2 separate regions of the Homo sapiens genome follow, and region 2 is linked to region 1. A link means that fine-mapping ties the variant in region 1 to the expression of a gene that starts in the linked region. Tissue or cell type: esophagus muscle. Region 1 holds a variant in brackets; the other region holds the start of a gene. All regions are shown on one strand. Distances are between the middles of the regions.

What was found. PIP is the estimated chance that this variant, and not a neighbour inherited with it, causes the effect.
Region 2: it holds the start of SETX, and the variant in region 1 is fine-mapped to the expression of SETX in esophagus muscle (GTEx, PIP above 0.99). The same link has a PIP of 0.9 or more in gastroesophageal junction, sigmoid colon and tibial artery.

Annotation. Positions count from the first base shown.
Region 1 is chr9:132,274,353-132,282,456 of GRCh38, forward strand. It overlaps SETX (senataxin), which reads right to left. Exons shown (of 26, transcript NM_015046.7): 20 at 7,115-7,222; 21 at 3,718-3,905; 22 at 2,708-2,800; 23 at 904-1,068. Among named protein-coding and RNA genes, the nearest start is that of SETX, 77 kb to the right of the region's middle. The variant T/C (reference allele first, on the strand shown) is at 5,061.
Region 2 is chr9:132,350,730-132,358,816 of GRCh38, forward strand. SETX (senataxin) reads right to left here and starts at 4,257. Exons shown (of 26, transcript NM_015046.7): 1 at 4,188-4,257; 2 at 2,920-3,026. RefSeq lists enhancers at 464-513, 3,521-4,022, 3,842-5,041, 4,023-4,522 and silencers at 3,907-4,116, 4,167-4,556.

The sequences.
Region 1 (8,104 bases):
TTTGATAGAATTCACCAGCTTAGCTTGGTTCTGGGCTTTTCATTATTGGGAAATGTTTCATTATTTGTTATAAAGGTCTGATTTTTTCTTTTTTTTTTTTTTTTGAGATGGAGTCTCGCTCTGTCACCCAGGCTGGAGTGATGCAGTGGGGCAATCTCAGCTCACTGCAGCCTCCGCCTCCTGGGTTCAAGCGATTTACCTACCTCAGCCTTCCGAGTAGCAGGGACTACGGGAGCGCGCCACCACGCCTGGCTAATTTTTGTATTTTTTTTCAGTAGAGATGGGGTTTCACCATGTTGCCCAGGCTGGTCTCAACCTCCTGACCTCAGGTGATCTGCCCGCCTCAGCCTCCCAAAGTGCTGGGATTACAGGTGTGAGCCACCACACCCAGCCTACAGGTCTGATTTTCTATTGTTTTCTAGATTCGATTTTGGTAGTCTGTGTGCTTCTAAGTTAAGATGATTTTAAGGTTATGGATCTCCAATATTTAATCTTTAATTTTACTGCTGAGGTAAGAAGGAAACAAAAACATGATTTTCATTCTATACATAAAGGCAATACAAGGGTTAAATCATTTATTTAAAGTGAAATGTTACTTTTAGTCTTGCTAGAACAAGAATTCAGATGAACAAGTCATGGAACTAAAAGGTAAAGACCTGGCAAGTTTCTTAGTCAATTCCACTGCCAAGGAGAATGTTGACATTCCAACTGCCAGGAAGTAACCTGTCTACCCAGGAGCCACACAGCACAAGTCTATGAAAGCCAGCAGCATCCCAGCTTCCTCGTGCCGTATCACCAATTTGCACAGACCACTCCTTAAGAGTTTCCCTTTTCTTCTTTCCTTCTATATCCTCTCATTCTAATTCAACAAGAAAATTGGAAATATTTATAAAAATGCCTCACCCTTTTCTATCGAACTCTTTGTCCAAATCCTTCTGAATCATCGTCTTCTGGGCCTTGTAATGAGTTATTATGCCAATGTTTCGAAAACTAACATCCTTTCTTTTGTCTTTAATAAGCTTAATTATTTCCATCACCAGTTTTATTTCTTGAACATTTATATATGAGCTAAACAAGATGGAAAAAGAAAACACAGTGTTATCAAAACTAATAGCAGGCTAATTGCTAACTTAAGTTCCACTGAGTTTGTTTCCCATTATAGTAAAGGGCAGGCAGATAGGCTTCATCTTTTATTCAGCTAGCAGTGACTCCAAGAGGCTGTTACAATGACCATTAATATGGTATATATGAATAAATGTGAAAATACTATGGTAAATATGAATACATGTGAAATGCCCAGTGAAAAATGAAGTTGTAGAGAGAAAAGAGTTTGAAATCAACTGAAGTTTAGGCACCACTTTCTTCATCTGTTGAAACAGGGAGAGCAGTATTAAGAACAGCAGTATTAATAAGAACAAAGATGTGAATAAGAGATAGCTAACATGAATTAAGGATTAACTATCTTCCGAACACTGAGAAAATGCTTTACATGTATGATCTTCCTTGTCCCTCACCACTGGCTGCATACAACACACACCACACAACCGAGCAGCTGCCATCCACACAGACTCAATGTGAAGGATGTGTCCCACTTGACCCCAGTTGAACAACATGGGGCCCTGGAGCAGGTTCATGTCCTCTTTGTAGTCCTCAGCAGCCTCATATCCTGCACTCTCAACCCCTCCTGAAAACACATGCTCCCTCATGACCATACCGGACCCAAAATGCACCAAGACCAGGGGATGCACTGCCCCATCCCTTGATTCCTGAGGCTACCTTACCCGCCTTGCTTTACGAGCCTTAAATACCCATTCTCCTAACTTTGAGACTTACTAAATGGACAACCCAATCAGCTAGCGATCTCTTCCATCCCTGAAATCCTCATGATGCTCTGCGGCTTAACTCGCAATCCTCTGCTCTCCTCCAAGAGGCCTCATTAAAACCTTTAGGCTGCAGTCCCTCCAGCACTACAATCCCATGGCCAACAACTCCTCTGTATGTGTAACCTCTTCAATGAGTGTTCCCTACTTCCACCTCTGTATCTTATCTAACGCCTGATTCTCGCCTGAGGACGCCACCTGCTCTGCAGCCATCCCATGATGTAGAAGTGGGATTTGTGTTTCCTCCTACTTCATGACAGAGTGGCACTTGTATCCGTGCCAACAAATGCTGCCCCTAGACCATTCCTCCCCTACTCTCTCACAAGAATCCCCAGCTCCTCTGACATTGCTGCTTCTAGCAACACCACTCCTCTTTGCTGTCATATACAGACCACCTGAACACATGCCCTTATTCACAACCCAATACCATCCAACCTCTGTCACTACTTCCTTCCTCCCTTTCACATTTTCATTCAACTGAATTTATACTTAGCCTTCACAGTACTTAACCCAACTGGAATAACTGCTTACCCAGGTGATGACCTGCTGAAGGCCTGTCTTCCCATGAGACCACCATCTTGCAATGGGCACGTCTGTTTCCCTCACTGCTGTGAGCTCAACAAGTATCTACTCAAGCACTTGCTTATGACATTAGGTAATATTATCCCCATTATACAGAAAAAAGAAGCATCAACTTAAGTGAACATGACTGTGCCCTGACACTAGGCAGAGAGATGTGTATAGGAAATGTATTTAACAGAAATATGAATGCAAATCATGTAACAATTCTGGGACTATCAGAGGACTGAGGCAAGAGGAAAACATACTCATTATCCCGTCTTTCTGAACCATCTCCAACATCAAACACAAGGTATGGCTGAAATGGCCAATCTGATGAACATCGAATGGCTTCTGTCTGTCTGTAAAAAAAAAAAAGCAGTCAACATTCAGAATAAAGTCAAGATTTAAGAAAATATCTTGGTATTACTACAATTTTTTCTGTGTGGTGATGTGGGCTGGGGCAAGTAAGGGGATAGCAGGAATATTCTTTTCTAGACGTGTATTAGTGAAAGGTACAAAACAAATTCTATTTCTTTCCTGGTGCTGGGAGAGGTGTCTATATCATTAAAATATAACAAGTATGATTGGAAAGACACTCATAATAGAGTAAGCCACAGAATACTATGTTAAGTATGGTCCCACATTTTTCCTTCAAAAATTTAAAAAGTAAAAAAAGATATGCATAGTAAAAGGACTGAAACTTGGCCAGGTGCGGTGACTCTCGCCTGTAATCCCAGCACTTTGGGAGACCAAGGCGGGTGGATTGCTTGAGCTCAGGAGTTCGAAAGCAGCCTGGGCAACATAGCGAAACCCCGTTTCTACAAAAAGAAAAATACAAAAATTAGCCAGGCATGGTGGTGACTGAGTGTAGTCCCAGCTACTCAGGAGGCTGAGGCAGGTGGATTGATTGAGCCTGGGAGGTCGAAGCTGCAGTGAGCCAGGACTGTGTGCCACTGCACTCATCCTGTGTGAGTGACAGAATGAGACCCTGTCTTCAAAAAAAAAAAAAAAAAAAAAAAGGACTGCTGAAAGTGGATATACCAAAATGTTACCAGTGATTATTTCTGGGTAGTATAAATATAGGTGACTTTTTCCCCTTTTCTTTTTTATGTGCTTTGCTGTATTCAACATGATGGCTATTATAACAGGACAAAATTATTAACCCTTCATGATTTATGCTTTTTATGACAAGACCTAAGACGACAGTAAAATGTCTATTCTTCATAAGTAGCTAAACTACAACAAAATAAGGTCACAAACAATAAGGGGAACTCACCTATTTGTTTTTAAGTTTCTGTTATAAACATAATTAGAAGGGAAGAGGCATATGTCTGGATGCATCCTGTACTGAACAGTGAGCTGTAGAATGGGCAGCCTGCTGATCATGTTGTGTTCTACATTCTCTTCCAGCAGTCTGCAGAAGCGAGCCATCATTGACTGGTCGTAGCCATACTCCTGTGCTTTCTGTGAGGGGCAAAATAAAGCAACAGTTTCCAAGAATTCATTTATATCTTTCCCACTATTATAAACACAATTACTGAGATCTAATACGTATATGGCAACGTTCAGGTAGCATAAGATTACCAACCACAGCTTCAGAGAAAAAAGGTGTTTCTGACTCTGAGCCTCAAAATGCCATGAATCTTTTTTTTTTTTTTTTTTTTTTTTTTTTTTTTTTGGAGACACAGTCTCGCTCTGTCACCCAGGCTGGAGTGCAGTGGCGTGATCTCAGCTCACTGCATCCTTCACCTCCCAGGTTCAAGCGATTCTCATGTCTCTGGCCTCCTGAGTAGCTGGGATAACAGGAATGAGCCACCACACCTGGCCAAAATGCCATGAATCTTGAATATATGTGGAGGTCTTTTCTACTCATATACTGCTAATGAAAGAGATATGATCTTGTGAAAGACAACTGATGCTATTTTGATGCTACAAGACGCCACCCAAAAAAACCAGTAATAAAGGAAATGTAACACAGATTTTAACAATTATTTCTGGGGGTACACCCTCACAGACAGACATATTGAATGCCACTGTAAACAAGCCTTTTGAAGACAAAATTCTTCATTCATCCATCTAATATGTACTAAGCATCTATAATTTGAAGTGCTAAGACCACTAGAGTGAATAAGATGAAGTCTCACAGGACTTAATTTCCAGTGAAGGAAACAGACTCGACTTATGTGTTGACCATCCCTAATCCAAAAATCCAAAATACTCCAATGAGCATATCCTTCGAGCGTGAACTTTAAGCATAAAGTCAGCACTTGGGAAGTTTCAGATGGTGAAGCATTTCAAATTTTTGAATTAGGAACGCCGAAGCTGTGCTAAATGGATTTCACAAACCAAATAATGGGTTATATTCTGCAATCTGAAAAACAGTGACCTAAGTGACAAGTGGGATAAACTGTCTTGATGTTACCACAGTTGTGCCTTGGGATCTACTTTCCGATGGCAGCAACACAGAAAGTTTCAAAAAGGGGAGGGGGAGGGATAGCATTAGGAGATACACCTAATGTAAATGACGAGTTAATGGGTGCAGCACACCAACATGGCACATGTATACATATGTAACAAACCTGCATGTTGTGAACATGTACCCTAGAACTTAAAGTATAA[T/C]TAAAAAAGAAAAGTTTCAAAAAGTACTTTATCTTAAATAACCCTGAAGTAAAAATGTGCTGAAAACTTCACTAAGATGATGGAATCTTCATGAGTGATGTGAAAGATACTGGCACTGAAGACGTGCAAAGCCTGAATAAACTTGTTTCACAAACTATGGGAGTGGAAGAAAGGCATTACTTCTTAACCTATTTATATGTGTGATTTTAAACAGGTTTGTGAAAGCATAAAATAATTATTAATAGATACATGCCAATTTTCCCTAAATCCTCAAAAGTTTATCTGCGTTAGCTCACAAAACCTAATTTTTAATCTTTTCTTTGGGGAAACAGAAAAGGAAGTTATGTAAGGTAACGCATCTACCTCCAGACAAAACCTTAGTCCATTCTACAAATGACATAGATTTATTAATATATATTCTGACATGGGAGGATGTCCCTGATTTACTGATTGAAAAAAAAACCAATTCTGCACAGAATGATTTTGCCACCTTTAAACAAAACCAAACCCACGTACATATACACATAAACATATACATGTATACAAACCATATACCACTTTTTAGTAACTGACTCACTGTTAACCCCTAGAATACAAACACCATAAGGGCAGGGATTTTGTCTGTTTTCTTCACTGTCATAACCCCAGCCCCTAAACAGTGCCTGAATTATGGTGGCACTCAATATATACATACTGAAAAAGACGAATAAACACACAAATGCCTAGCAATATCTGTTAAAAATACTCACTTTCACTGTAATTACCACTAGAAACAGGTGGTCAAAAAAGGCACCTTATGGAAATGAACTTTGTAATTATTTTCTCAAAATAGCCTGTTTTATTTGTACAACAATTTAAACAGCACAAATGGATTTTTTTTTTCTAATTTTTGTTGTTTTTATCAATCATTGAAGTAGGCAGTAAAGTTGAGGCCCATTAACAATCTCTCTTTTCACTATATGCCAAGGCCCTTCAATGAAATCCTGCATCATTTAAAGAAATGGGATACAGAATTTGCTCTTCATTATTCTCCGTGAACAAAGTTACCTGCAGCAGTTCTTCCCTACACACACGGGTTTTCACTGGGTGACGGGTGTGCTTCTGGGCCACACTCTAACATGATCATGTACCTGCGCTCAAATGTCATACAAAGAACTGCACTATCATTCTGAATAATTCCGAAATCAAAAACCACTAACGATAACCACCTGCATTCATTCCAAGCTTCAACAAAAATGCTTTGAAAATGATCTGTTCTCTAGGATTATTTATGAAGCCACTGCTCAATTATCTGTATAAATAATCTATGTTATTAGTAAAAAATACACATTTCATTAAATTTCAAAACCTCTTCAGATTACTTCAAAACATCTACTGGATCCTGATTCTAATGTGCATTTCCAGGAGAATCTTTCATGAGATTAAAAAAAACCAACAGAGAAGAGTAGACTACAGTCTGGTTCTTCTCTTCCCAAAGTCAGAGCTTGTAATTGAGTCTTTTTTTCCCCTGTACCTTCACTTTCAGATGATGTGAAGGGCACAGACATGTTCTTGTATTAACACTAGAATACCAAATTCTAAAAATGGAAATGTACTCCAAAATTAATTTAACTTCATGTTTTCCTCAATTTGTACATATTTAAACAAAAATGAGGAGGGTAGGATTCTTCTCTTTATTTCTGAAGTTTTTCTTTTATTATTGTTTTGGTGTTTGTATGATTAAAATAAATCAGATTCAGCTCTTAAGAGACTTAAAAAAGGCAGACATGCACACTGCCTTTCCCAAAGCTTGGTTTCCATGGCACGTCATCCATCTAGGCTTCCAAGTCCCTGCCACACTGCTTCTGCCACACATACACAGAAGAACAACTATGACCAAATGGACATTTTTAGGCATTTTTTAAAATTTATTAAGTGCTTCTCTTTTCTTAGTTACTGCTTACTTTTCCCTCCAAATTAAGAGGCCAATCCAAGAAAGATGTCTCTCCCTCCTGAAAACAAAAATTTTAAAAAGCCCCTTCCATTTTAAAGCAATCTGAACATAAAAAACTTACCATAGAGATGACTGTCGGAGGGAGCTGCTTAGGATCTCCTACTAGGATGAGCTTATTGCAGCGATGGATGAGTGGAGTAAGAGTCTCAATTTCACAAGACTGTCCAGCCTTGGTAAGATACAGAAGAGAGAGGCAGTCTTAACAATCTTTGCTATTTATCCATATAGTTTATCTGATTAAAGTTCTAACCATTCAGAAAAGTATCACACTTCTCCTGCACCAAATATCAAAAATACAAATTTTCCCTGAAAACAAAAAAACAAAACAAAACCAACAAAATAAACCCTCCAGGCTGTGTGCAGTGGCTAACACACGTAATGCCAGCACTTTGGGAGGCCGAGGTGGGTGGATCACCTGAGGTCCGGAGTTCAAGACCAGCCTGGCCAACATGGCGCAACCAAAAAAATTAGCTGGGCGTGGTGGCAAGTGCCTGTAATCCCAGCTACTTGGGAGGCTGAGGCAGGAGAACTGCTTGAACCCAGGAGGCAGAGGTTGCAGTGAGCCGAGATCACATCACTGCACTCCGGTCTGGGTGAGTGCAGACTCCGTCTCTAAAAAAAAAAAAAAAAAAAGCAAGACTCCGTCTCAAAAAAAACAATAAATAAATAAAAAGTAAACTCTCCAAACATGTCTAAAAAAAAAATCAAACTTGTATTTTTGAAGTCAGCCACCAACGGGGCCACTACCACTTGGGAACCAGCCGTAAGTTCAGAAGGCCATGCACATCCTAGATGCGTGCTTTTTGTTCCTGCTGGGCATGAGCCTGAAAAATTTTTCTCCTTTAAAGTCCTTTTAAAACTTTATTTTAAATTTTTTATTTATTTTTTAACTTATTTTTTTTTTTTTTGAGAGAGAGAGTCTCACTCTGTCACCCAGGCTGGAGGGCAATGACATGATCGTTGTTCACCGCCTCCCGGGCTCAAGCAATCCTCCCACCTCAGCCTCCCGAATAACTGGAATGACAGGCACACACCATCAACTCCTGGCTCA
Region 2 (8,087 bases), 76 kb after region 1:
GGGTAGCTTTCAACATTAAAGTACATACACACAAAAGGACATTTAAAAATGAGATTTCAAAAAACAAAATCAAAACTTCTTTAGAAGAAATTTAATTTCACTAAGTTCTACATGAGGAGCTTCCTGAAAGCAGAGAAAAAGGATAACATGAGTTACACAGTTCTCATCGACGTGGGGGGGAAAAAGAGTATGCAGTGATAGCCGCAGAGTACCGCCCTTTCCTGACACAAACTCTAACTCAATTACATTTTATTAATGCCTTCTAGTACAAGGGCACTGCAGACTAGGAAATGCCAAGTAACATGGGATAAGGTCTTCAATGTATTTCTGCAGAATTTAAAATTATTTTATTCAAAAGAAGAATTACTTATACCTAAGAGGCCAACATCACACTACTAGTAAGTTAACAGCTTGCAGAAGCTGTTTTTTTTTCCGGTAACCTAGTTTAATATGGAAAGTGAACTTAGAAGACGTAAGAACAGAAAGTGAAACTTCATGGAGGTTTCTCAAACATTTGAAGCATGATTTCAGCAGCTAACAGACTGCAGCCAATTTAAGCTTTAAAAAACTTAAGTGAGACTACCATGCAAATAAAATGTTGCATACTTCTTTTCCCACTTACCTTACTTGAAGCTCCAAATGTTGTGTACTTTAAAATAAGTACTAACAAAGGAGACAACAAAAGAAACCTTCTATTAAGAAAATTACAGAATTTGCTTTTTATTTCACTTAGAAAACTAGCCTATTTCCACAACCAAAAAAGCAAGACTAAATTTTCTCAAAATATATAGGAGTTACTACCAAAATAGGTGAGTGTCATGGCCGCTAGAAGATAACGGAGAATACTGCTGCAGAGCACACCAACAAGAGAACATGTGCTTCCATGGTTCTTCTTCAAAAGGCTGTGTGTGTGGTTTTGTCTTCAAATTTAAAATCATCACTGGCCTAATGGCTAAGCCCAGGAAACCTCAATAGGGCATATTTTGTCTTTAAGGAGAAAATTATTGCTTCTAAACTACTGTGAATCCTCTTAAGCTTTTATACAACTCAGTTCTTCTTGAGGTCTATTTTGTTAGTTTCATCAGACTGTAACGGCTTGCAATCATTAGTGAATGACAAATGGGTGTGTCCAGACAATACTCAAGTTGCAAAACCAAAATTAAAGCAACTCTCTGAGCACCCACCAAAAAGAGAGCTAATGTGTCAAAACCAAAAATATAGGATGCTTCACCATAGGTATTACTGTAATTTTCTACAGACTTATCCTTAGGCTATCCATTTCTCAACATTAACTAGCCAGAAACTTCAAATAACAATCTCTTTCTTCTACACTTCTCAGCTAAACATCTGGAAGTTTAGATTCACTACCTCCCAGCTCTTCAGCTCCTTTGCACTCTGGCTTCTACCCTTACACTCCACTGAATGTGAAGTCCCTAACAATCTTTACATTACCAATCCAATAGGTTCCTGACCTGACTCTGCTAAAGCATATGAAAATGCTGCCCATCCTTTCCTTACCTACAACACACCATTTTTTGGACACCACTTCTACCCAATCACCTTCATAATTACCCCTGCCTTTGTTACTCATATAAATGCTAAAGTTTTCGAAGGCTTGTCCTGAGAATTCTCACCTCTTCATTCAGTACTCTTTCTGGGCGGCCTACTTCAAACCACTGCTTCAACTACTGCCTAGATTGAAGCTGCCCAGACTGAGAATGTATTGTAAAACTTAATGCAGGCAGGGCGCAGTGGCTCACACCTGTAATTCCAGCACTCTGGGAGGCCGAGGCGTGAGGGATCACGAGGTCAAGAGATCAAGACCATCCTGGCCAACATGGTGAAACCCCGTATCTACTAAAAATATAAAAATTAGCTGGGCATGGTGGTATGCACCTGTAGTCGCAGCTACTGGGGAGGTTGAGTGAAATGATGCACTGTTCCACCTACTCAATAACTGACAGCCTAGCCTAGAACTCCAGATATATTCAATATCCAACTGCATACAGTGTATCTCTACTCACATATCTGACAGGCACCTCAAAGTAAACATGACCAGAACCCAACGAAGTCCTTCCCTTAAATCTGTTATTTGTTCTATATTCCCTTGTTGATGACATTACCATACATTCAATTTTCAAACCAGTAACCTAGGAATTATCCTATACGCTCCTTCTCCCTCAGCCGCAATCTCTGAGCTCCAGAGCCTACCCCTTAATTACATCTCTACTTTCTTCTCAGTGCAACCGCCACTGCCTTAGTTCAGTACATTTTCATCATTTGCCTGGATTACTGAAGAAGCCTAAATGATCTATTTCTTCTTTGATCGCCATCAATTCCTCCTCCAAAATGCTGCCAGAGGCCAAAGCCCCAAACTGGACTTCGAAAGCACAAATGACTCCTCCTCCAATGTTGGGATAAAATTCAAATTGCTGAGCTCAACACACACAAGGCCCGCGATGATCCAGCTTCCACATCATCTCTTTCCTCCACACTTACCTCCCTTGACTTGCTCTTCCTAAAACCATTCATGGTGACTGGTATTCCCTGCCTTTATGGAAGCTCTTCCACTGGCCTTGGAAACCCACCCTCCTACCTCTGCCCGGTACTTAACTGTGAATACACATCAGACTTACCTCAGGAACTTAAAAAAAAAAGTAGAAAAGATCCTATGGATAAAATTGTTTCCCTTTTAAAGAACTCCACTAAGATTCGAAGAGAAAGCTGGATTTGAGAACAACCAGTGTGCAAGCTCTTCCTGAGTGTCATCACGTCTGGGGGGGGGGCCTGTCCGACCCGTCCTCTCTTCCAGTCTATCTCTGATGACCTTCTTCTCTGTCCCTTTAGGACTCTGCACATGTTTCCATCATTGCACTTACCTTGGTGCTCTGAACTCCTGCTAAAAAAAAAAATTATTACCTGGACAAATGGCCTACAGAAAAGTGATCGTCTCAGCTGGGCTTAGTTGTGAACAAACACGGATTTGCATTCATATATGCCCAGACTCTGGCCCCAAAAGAACATTTCTGAAATTAAAAAACAAAAAACGAAATTGGTAAGTGGCATTTATACTCTATATCCCATCTGAGCCTGGTATCGATCCTATTACAGACAGATACTGCTGGCTGATGAGGAAGCCCAGATAGGTTAGACAACTTGGCTGTGGACTTCCAGGAAACAGCAGAACTGCAATTCTGACTCCCAGTTCCACAAGGGGCTGTCCCCACTCACGGGGACAGCTAGGCACCGAGCCAAAAATCCCCCAAGTTATTAGCCCGCGCAGGTAACATCAATCCTAGGATCCTCAGCTGTGTCACTTATCAAATACCACACTCGGCCTTCTCCTTGTGGAGCTCTTTTCCCTCAAGGCAGTCACCCCCGTTTCACTTGGGTCGTGCAAATTGCTGGGCACATCCTTAGATCCCCAGAAGTTGGGGAGGACGGACAAAGTCCTGTGGCCAGCAGCAAAAGCTCCAGCCCCTCCAAGTGGGAGAAACAGACTCTCCTCCAAACGAAGGGACCGGCCGGGCGCGGCGGCTCGGAGGATCCCTGGAGCAGCTGAGCTCAGCCTGGGAAACACAGCCAGGCCCTGTCTCTGCAACACATTTTGTTTTTAATTAGCCGGGCGTGGTGACGCGCGCCTATGGTCCCAGTTACTCGGGGGGATGAGGCGGAAGGATCGCTGGAGCCCAGGAAGACGAGGTTGCTGCGAGCCGTGACTGTTCCACTGCACTTCAGCCTGGGTGACAGAGCGAGACCCCGTCTCAAAAAAAAAAAAAAAAGAAAAAAGAAAAAAAAACAAAGGGAGGGACTCCAGGCGAGAGGCAGACGAGCGTGTGGAGGGAACCGACACTTTCCACCCCGAGACCTCCCGCTCAGCCCCAAGGAAACTACGCAGTATCCACACCAAAAACAGCTCACACGAGACCGCAGTGTAGACAACGGAAGGACAGGGGGTCGCAGCGGCCGGGTCCAGCGCGCAGGAAGGCAACAGGCGGCCGCCAGCCGTCGAGGGGTGCTCCCGCCCCCGCACCGAGGGAAGCGGCCGAGCCCGCGCCGACTCTTCCCCCATCCGCCCACCGGGACCTAGGCGCCGCGATGGTTCCCCGAAGCGGCCCTGCAAGCACAAGCCGCGCCTGCGCTCACGCCCGCCCGACCTACGGCCTCCAGCCCGCCGCTACCCTCACCGCTCTCTGGCTGGCGTCGGCCTCTAGCCCACCTCCATACCGGGCCCCGCTCTAGGCCACCAGCGGAAGTGCGGGCCCGCAGCCGCAGCTACCAACCAGCTGTTGCCGCGAGGTAGGCCCCGCCCCCGCGCTGAGTCGGCCGGCCGCAGGCCCCGCCCCGGCCGCTGCTTTCTGGTTTTGGTGCCCCCCAGGGGGCGGGGCATGGGAAGAGCGGCCGCGGTGCACCGCCCACGCCGGGCGCTGGCGTCACGTCCGGGCAGCTGGGGCCCGACCAATCCCGAGTCCCCGTCAGGGTGGACGGGGAGAGTTTGCCGCGGAACCTTGACCTCGGCCCCGCCCGGGGCTTCCTGCGGGTGGGGCGGCTCCGGGATGAGCTCTGCTGCGGGTGGGGTCAGCCCTTACCCGCTGGCCATTTCCGTTCCCTCTTTTTTCTTCTTTTTTCCACGCCTCAGGTGTCTCAGCGGATGTACTACGGTGACGAAGTAATTTTTCTCTTTAGATTTCCTTTAAAGACCTGAAATGTAAATTACATAAACGTGTAATTTCGGAGGAATATGTGTATATCCTTTATATTACAAGAAAGGGAGACCTTAGGTCTTGCGAACAATGCGCGCGATGCGCAACACAGCAGAGTAAATCCCTCGCTGGTGCGGTGGCTCCCGCTTCTAATCCCACCACTTTGGGAGGCCCAGGCGGGAGGCTCGCTTGAGCCCGGAGTTCAGAGACCAGCCTGTGCAACATAGCGAGACACCCGTATGTACAAAAAAAAATTAAAACTCAGCCACCGAGGCCGGGCGCGGTGGCTCACGCCTGTAATCCCAGCACTTTGGGAGGCCGAGGCGGGTGGATCACCTGAGGTCAGGAGTTCGAGACCAGCCTGACCAACATGGTGAAACTCCGTCTCTACTAAAAATAAAAAGATTACCTGGGCGTGGTGGCGGGTGCCTGTAATCCCAGCTACTCAGGAGGCTGAGGCATGAGAATGGCTTGAACCCGGGAGGCAGAGGTTGCAGTGAGCCGAGATCGCACCACTGCACTCCAGCCTGGGCAAAGGAGCGAGACTCTCTCTCCGGAAAAAAAAAAAAAAAAAAAAAAATTAGCACCTGTGGGCCCAGCTTGTTGGGAGGCTGAGGCAGGGGGTGGATATCCATTGAGACCGGGAGATCGAGACTGCAGTGAGCCGTGACTGTGCCACTACACTCCAGGCTGGGGAACAAAGCAAGACCCTGTCTCAGAAAAGTCTATAAATAAATAAAAATGAGTAAAATCCACTGGAAAGCCTATCCCCCCCCTTTTTTGTTTTTGAGATGGAGTCGCGCTCTGTCACCCAAGCTGAAGTGCAGTGGCGCAGTCTCGGCTCACTGCAACCTCCGCCTCCTGGGTTCAAATGATTCTCCTGCATCAGCCTCCCGAGTAGCTGGGAGTACAGGCGTGTGCCACACGCCCGGCTAATGTTCATGTTTTTAGTAGAGATGGGGTTTCACCATGTTGGCCAGGATGGTCTCAAACTCCAACCTCAAGTGATCCGCCCCGCCTCGACCTCCCAAAGTGCTGGGATTACAAGCGTGATCCACCGCACCCGGCCCCTACCCCCTTTTAGTAACGCCTACTACTGACCACGATGATGCAGCGTCACCGTCTTACAGTTAATAGAGGAGACAGGGAAATTAAACAATTAGTAGTGGTGACTCAGGCGATAAAAAAAGAGGCTGAGATGGGCCAGCTTGGGAAAAGTGGGTCAGATACAGCCTTACCGAGGAGAACCCTGGCCCGAGGATGAGGAGCAAGCCCAGGGGAACACTGCGGGAAAGGCCCAAGGCGAAGGAAGATTCTAGCAAGGGGGCGTGGCTTGTTGGAAGGGCGTGGTGGCCGTTATGCAAATTTAACCGTCTAAGGAGCAGCACGCGTTGACCGTTATTTTCCTCTTTTCTACTTCTTCATCCTGTCAAATATTTTGAACATATTTTGTTTTATCATATAACACTAATATACCAACACAGCCTTTATACCACCACAGTCATAAAATATAATTTTTTTTTTTTTTTGAGACGAGTCTCGCTCTGTCGCCCAGGCTGGAGTGCAGGGGCGCCATCTCGGCTCACTGCAAGCTCCGCCTCCCGGGTTCACGCCATTCTCCTGTCTCAGCCTCCCGAGTAGCTGGGACTACAGCCACGTGCCACCACGCCTGGCTAATTTTTTGTATTTTTAGTAGAGACAGGGTTTCACCGTGTTAGCCAGGATGGTCTCGATCTCCTGACCTCGTGATCCGCCCGCCTCTGCCTCCCAAAGTGCTGGGATTACAGGCTTGAGCCACCGCACCCGGCCATAAAATATAATTTTTATCATTTTTTTTAATGGAGAAAAGTGCCATGAAGGTAACTTGTGCCCAGAGCCCACAAAAGTCATAATTTCCTCCTGTCCCTGAAGCCCTCTGTAGGCCTTATCATCTTCCCACATTTTTTGTCTGTGAACAACATATAAATTTTACATGCTTTTTAACTCTGTATATGGAATTATGGAGGATGTATTTTTCTGCAAATTGCTTTTTACACTCAATGTTATGTCCTGAGACTCATTGATTCAAGGTGCATTCAGGAATTGTTGAGCCCAAAACTTACACAACCTATAGAATGTTAAACAGAAGCACTGCAATAGACTTTGTAAATATAAAATTAGAAATGAAAATTAATACTTATTTGGAATGAATAAATAAGTACAAATTACAAACTTCTAAAGCTGATAAAACCATAAACATGGCCAGGCGCAATGGCTCAGGCCTGTAATCCCAGCACTTTGGGAAGCTGAGGTGGGCAGATCACCTGAGGTCAGGAGTTCAAGACCAGCCTAGCCAACATGGTGAAACCCGGTCTCTACTAAAAATACAAAAATTAGCCAGGCTTAGTGGTGCATGCCCGTAGTTCCAGCTACTTGGGAGGCTGAGACAGGAGAATGGCTTGAACCCGAGAGGCGAGGCGACAGAGTGAGACCTCATCTCCAAAAATAAATAAATAAATAAATAAATAAATAAATAAATAAATAAATAAATAAATAAAAAGACTGGGAAGTATGAGGCCTCCAGTATCGTTCTTTTTCAAAATTGTTTTAGCTACTTAAGGTCCCTTGCTATTCCATGTGAATATTTAGAATTGGCTTGTCCCGTTTCTGCAAATAAATAAGTACAAGCAGTTGGAATTTTTATAGGGATTGAATTGTATTTTTAGATACATCTGGGGAATCAATTGACACCTTAACAATATTAAGTATAGCAGGTTCTCTAATAAGATCATTTTGTTCAATGTGGTTTTGTTATAACATTGATGAGAAAAAAAAAATCCATTCCTGCTCAAGGCTTTTTTTTGAGACGGAATCTCCCTCTGTAGCCCAGGCTCTGGAGTGCAGTGATGCGATCTTGGCTCACTGCAAGCTCCGCCTCCCAGGTTTCGGTTCAAGCAATTCTCCTGCCTCAGCCTCCTGAGTAGCTGGGATTATAGGCACGCACCACCACGCCCAGCTAATTTTTGTATTTTTAGTAGACACGGAGTTTCAGCATGTTGCCCAGGCTGGTCTTGAACTCCTGACCTCGTGATCCGCCTGCCTCAGCCTCCCAAAGTGCTGGGATTACAGGTGTGAGCCACCGTGCCTGGCCCCGAGGCCACTTTGTGTGTGGAGTTTGCCCCTTCTCCCCATGTCTGTGTGGGTTTCCTCCAGGTACTCCAATTTCCTTCCCGATTCCAAAGATGTGCCAGTTAGGTTGATTGGCATGTCTACATTGTCCTAGCCTGAGTGAGCATGGGTGTGTGTGTGAGTGTATACCCTGCAAAGGGATGGCATCTTGTCCAGAGTTGGCACCCACCTGGCACCAGGAAAGATTCTGGCCATCCGCGATCCTGAACTGGAATG